Regions from separate parts of the Homo sapiens genome. Here region 2 is linked to region 1. Evidence: fine-mapped expression QTL. A gene starts in region 1. The other region holds a variant in brackets. All regions are shown on one strand. Distances are between the middles of the regions.

Evidence for each region. PIP is the estimated chance that this variant, and not a neighbour inherited with it, causes the effect.
Region 2: its variant is fine-mapped to the expression of CLNS1A in whole blood (TOPMed, PIP 0.94).

The regions. Positions count from the first base shown.
Region 1 is chr11:77,636,340-77,639,245 of GRCh38, forward strand. It overlaps CLNS1A (chloride nucleotide-sensitive channel 1A), which reads right to left and starts at 1,455. Exons shown (of 7, transcript NM_001293.3): 1 at 1,251-1,455. The coding sequence starts at 1,375. RefSeq lists enhancers at 1,183-1,702, 1,357-1,596.
Region 2 is chr11:77,610,209-77,613,114 of GRCh38, forward strand. AQP11 (aquaporin 11) reads left to right here. Exons shown (of 3, transcript NM_173039.3): 3 at 1-148. Among named protein-coding and RNA genes, the nearest start is that of AQP11, 22 kb to the left of the region's middle. The variant G/A (reference allele first, on the strand shown) is at 1,169.

The sequences.
Region 1 (2,906 bases):
TTACAGGTGTGAGCCACCGCGCCCGGCCCAACACGGTCATATGTACAACTACTCCACACATGTCCTGACCAAACTCATTATCTGCCTCTCACCTCAATCTTGCTTTTCCTCCCATCCATATGTCCTATCTCAGTTTCTGGCCTGAAGCCTAAACCTTGTTCAATGTCTAAATTTCCCTTTAAAGCAGAGGTTCTTTACAGTTTTTGTGCTCTGGATTCTGTAGTAGGCAGAATTTTGGCCCCACGACCTTCACTTTCTGGTGTCATGCGGGTGAATATGTTATATTACACAGCAAAAGGGACTTCACAAACGTAATTAAGGTTACCAGTCGACAGTAACATAGGGAGATTATCCTGGATTTTACAGGTGGTTCCAAAGTAATCACATGAGCTCTTAAAAGTAGAGAATTTTCTCTGGCTGTAGACAAGTGATGGAGCAAAAGGGGAAGCAACACATATCTGAAGGGCAGGAAAGATTCGATGTGTCATTACAGGCTTCAAAATAAAGAAAACTGCATGTCAAGGAAACAGGGACCTCTGTTCTACAACCACAATATTTACGGTAGATCTATCTGACTGTCAAAATACCAAAGTGCTCCACGTGGCCAAATAAAAGGGCAATTCCTTCCAGGACCCCAAAACGGGAGTCTGGTCCCTCTGCATATGACCCCTGTCTGTGTCGAGTTAAGGGTGTTCCTCTCCTTACTATACCTACAGAAGAAAATCTTTATTGTGTAACCAAACTTTAAAAGTCCTCCACAGTCGGCTCTGAAACTACGTATCCCAGAGAGGGGAACATCTCCTGCATCTGTTCATCCGGAAAGACAGGCACACTTCAGACCCTTAAAACCAGACCGTGCGTTAAGGGCAACGCACGCGCCAGACCTCCAGTAAATAGGCGAGTTAAAAAAAAAAAAAAAAGAAAATAAAAGAAAGAAAGAAAGAAAAGAAGAAGAAAGAAAGAGAGAAAGAGACAGAGAAAGAGAAAGAGGAAAAAAAGAAAAAAAAAAAAAAAAAGCACAATCCATAAGGGGAAATTCCGGCCGGAGAAAACAGAGAATGGAAGACTCCGGAGGAGTACTAGAAAAATCGAGCCTTCCACCCGCTACAGGTATCCCTGAGGCGTCGGGCACGAGACCCCGCTCCCAGCAGGCCTCCAGGCCGCCCCTTGCCCGGCTCCTTCGCACCGCCTGCTCCAGCAAGGAGGAGGGCGGCGCGCAGGAGGCCAGCGCTGGGGACCAGGAACCCTACCTCTCAGCGATGTAAAGGGTACCAGTGCCGAGGCCCTTCCCGTTCAGCACAGCCTCAGTGTCTGGCTGCTGCCGCAGGAGCCCCTCCGCTGGCCCAGGCGGCGGGAAACTTTTGAGGAAGCTCATAGCAGCAGAGTGCGGCAACACAGGCCCTGAGGGAGTTGGAGCACAGCAATGCGTGCACCACACCGCCCGCCCTGGAAGAGGCAGTCACCCCGGAAGAACAACTTAGTCTGCCCCGGAATCTGAACGCCGTCGACCATAGAGATGAGACATTCTAGGAAAAGCGGCGGAGGTCGGCTAAGAACGTGTGGAGTTTGACCGCGCAACACCCTTCCCCTTCTTCCTCGCCATTTCTGAGGCTTTGGGCTTCAATAACTGAGGGTTCTGTGGGAAGTCCCTCAGGATTGTCACAGTGAAACCACCACTGCAAAATTATAACTGAGACACTGAAAGCGATCTGACCTACCCAAATCCATGTTGTTTCTAACCTCCAAACTGTCCTTGTTCATTGCTGGATATAGGCTGAACTAACTTTGGGAGGAACTTAGTTTACAGTTTGAAGTTTAAAACAAAGATGATGACAGCCTTTTCCCAAAACAAACTTCCTTCTTGCCTGGGGACTGGACTGCCTTTGTAGGACTAACAAATCAGCCACAAGATTAGAAATTATGGTTTAGATTAGAAATTACAGCTGCAAGCTACAAGATTCTGACCCTCCCTAAACTGCACCTAAGATCGGTGCTTGAGATATGTTGCAGACCCTGCACTTGATGGATCAGCTGGCACCACCAGATGGATAAACTGGCTATGTGATCTTGTGCCCCCTCCCCACCAACCCAGGAACTGACTCAGCGCAAGAGGACAGCTTCAACTCCCTGTGACTTCATCTCCCACCCAACCAATCAGCACTCTTGACTCACTGGCCTTCCCCAACCTGCCAAATTATCCTTAAAAACTTGGATCCCTGGCTGGGCGCGGTGGCTCACGCCTGTAATCCCAGCACTTTGGGAGGCCGAGGCGGGCGGATCACGAGGTCAGGAGATCAAGACCATTCTGGCTAACATGGTGAAACCCCGTCTCTACTAAAAATACAAAAAAATTAGCCGGGTGTGGTGGCAGGCGCCTGTGGTCCCAGCTACTGGGGAGGCTGAGGCAGGAGAATGGCGTGAACCCGGGAGGCAGAGCTTGCAGTGAGCCGAGATAGCGCCACTGCACTCCAGCCTGGGCGACAGAGCGAGACCCCGTCTCAAAAAAAAAAAAAAAACAACAAAAAACAAAAAACAAAAAAACTTTGATCCCTGAATGCTCTGGGAAACTGATTTGAGTAAAAATAAAACTCTAGGCCGGGTGCAGTGGCTCATGCTTGTAATCCCAGCACTTTGGGAGGCCGAGGCGGGCAGATCACGAGGACAGGAGATCGAGACCAGCCTGGCTAACACGGTGAAACCCCGTCTCGACTAAAAATACAAAAACAAAATTAGCCGGGCGTGGTGGCAGGTGCCTGTAGTCCCAGCTACTCGGGAGGTTGAAGCGGGAGAATGGCGTGAACCCGAGAGGCGGAGCTTGCAGTGAGCCGAGGTCGCGCCTTGGCACTCCAGCCTGGGCGACAGAGAGAGACTCCGTCTCAAAACAACAACAACAAACTCTAGTCTCC
Region 2 (2,906 bases), 26 kb before region 1:
CTTCAATCCAAAAATTCTTCTCGGTCACGATTATGACTAAAGGGAAATCAAGGGTTCATAGAAACATTAAATACTTTATAATAACGTTAAAACTTGTTTAGAAATTAACTAGTATTTTTTGAGGTTTAAAGAACCTTCCAGTTTTACTATATTAGAAGGCTTCTTTTATTGTATGCGGTCTAATTTTTATTAAAAGTTCAGGCCATGAAAGGTTAAGTATGTATCCCTTCAAAGGAAATTCCATTATCAGAGTTAGAATTGAAAGTAAAGGCTGGGCACGGTAGCTCACGCCTGTAATCCCAACACTTTGGGAGGCCGAGACAGGCGGATCACGAGGTCAAGAGATTGAGACCATCCTGGCCAAGATGGTGAAACCTCACCTCTACTAAAAATATAAAAATTAGCCAGGCATGGTGGCGTGCACCTGTAGTCGCAGTTGCCAGGTAATTTAAGTGCTGCTTGGTGACCAGCTTGTAGACAGTCACTCTATTTATACCTGCAGACTGAACAGGTGCAGCCTTTTGCCAAGTCTACCCAACAAGGCAGCCAGCTTTGTATTTTAAAAAGCAGAGTTCGGCCGGGCACAGTGGCTCACGCCTGTAATCCCAGCACTTTGGGAGGCTGAGGTGGGTGGATCACAAGGTCAGCGATTCAAGACTAGCCTGGCCAAGATGGTGAAACCCTGTCTCCACTAAAGGTAGAAAAATTAGTCAGGCATGTTGGTGAGCGCCTGTAGTCCCAGCTACTCAGGAGGCTGAGGCAGGAGAATCGCTTGAACCTGGGAGGCGGAGGTTGCAGTGAGCCGAGATCGTGCCACTGCACTCCAGCCTGGGCAACAAGAGTGAAACTCCATCTTAAAAAAAAAAAAAAAAAGAGTTCACAAATGTGACTAAATGGCTAAATGCAGTCTCTGACTTATTTTATTTGGCCTCACAGTAGTTTTTTTAAAAAGTCGAAATTAAGTAAAATCCATAGTTCTAGCTGCTCTTAGAAAAACTCCAAAGACCTTGCAATACTAGGCCTGAATTCTGCCATACAACACAAAATAATGGTTGTTCCCTTTAAAATGGTCCCGTCTTGCAAACATGAAGCTAAGTTTCACTTACTGTTTCATGGCTGTTTTTCTTATAGGAATATGCCTTTTTACATCTCTAGCATGAGGACTTCT[G/A]TGGGTTAAGAAAAATGAGTATTAATTTGTGAAAATGCCTAGCCCTCTGAACTTCCACTGTCAGACTTTGGAGTTTGTGAGTTCTGATGACACTGCTACCTCTATAGCCCTCTCAAGTAGTGGCTCTTTTCTCTCCCACACCTAGTATACCACTGTGCCTGGAGGCAGAGTAGATTTCCTTGTCCTCAATGTCCTCAATGGATGCTTGTCCTCATGGGATGCTGCTCATCCATTCTCCTCTGCTTCTTCCATTAAAAACATGTCATCAGTTACCTGGGTACTTGTTGCAGTCTTCTAGTATACAGTCCCCTCAATTTCCCTTTGTTCCTTTCAGATCTTAGTTCCTGTCTCACTCTCTACCATCACCACAGTTATACTTCTTGGTGACAGATACAAAGATGATCCTTCCAGCTGCACGGCCTTGGAGTTCACTGGATCTCTCCTTTGAAAATTTTGTCTTCTACTTTGCCTCAGCTGCAATTTTGGTGGTAACTTTGAACTTACTTACTACCAATAACTGAAATCTTCTATGAACTCAGACACCCTACTCTCTAACCACTGACCCCTTTTCAGCTCAGTCTCTCTAGGACCCCATCTCCAGTGATCCTTTGACCCCCATGTGGAACTTCTGTCCACTGATAACACCACTTTTTCACATCTCTCACCCCTCTCAAGTACCCTCTTCTCCTTAAGCAGCTTACTTGGCCAGTCATCATCACATGCATACACCCTTAACTCCCTTGCTCCTCTATCTCATACTCACAGAGCTTAGCCTCAACTTGATTAAATCCAACTGTTTGCTTATTCCATGCCTGCACTTGTGCAATAGAATAGCAGCTTTTTTTTTTTTTTTTAAAGATTTGGGGTTGTAGTAGACAGCTGTACATTTTTTGCAATCCAGCATCTAAGCATCCTTCTTACCTGGGGTACTGTGAGCATCTGCACAGCGGCAGCGTCCTTCCACTGTAGAAGCTGAAAGGCCCAGATACTCCTTCTGCCCTTGGCAATGAAGACACACAGTGCCAACCAGAAGTTTGCATCTTAAGTGTGGTGACTCACAGACACAGGGACAATCAAGAAATCAGTCTAACAGCAGCGGAGGAATCATAACATCTTATGTAGATTTCATCTTTTTATGAGCCTGGCTTATTTCAACTTTCCTGTCCATTTAGTGAGCTACCAGATAGCTTTCTAATAAAAATTTTCTGCTTAGGCCAGGCACGGTGCCTCACGCCTGTAATCCCAGCACTTTGAGAGGCCAAGGCGGGTGGATCACCTGAGGTCAGGAGTTCAAGACCAGTCTGACCAACATGGAGAAACCCTGTCTCTACTAAAAATACAAAATTAGCAGGATGTGGTGGTGCATGCCTGTAATCCCAGCTGCTCAGGAGGCTGACGCAGGAGAATTGCTTGAACCCGGGAGGCGGAGGTTGTGGTGAGCCAAGATCACGCCACTGCACTCCAGCCTGGGCAACAAGAGGAAAATTCCGTCTCAAAAAAAAAAAAAAAAAAAAAAATCTGCTTAGTCAGACTTGGATTTACAATCATAATTTGGGCTGATGCAGGGTCATAATTTTATGAACATAAACTGCTACACTGTCCTCATTTGTACTGTTTAGAGGCTTAGACTGCTATATTTTGTGGGAATATATGTTTACCTTTTTTCATAATTCTGTCAGCTATTTACTGCTGCTACTGATAGAACTACCTTTTTCTCCTTGTCAAACCCATTGTGTGC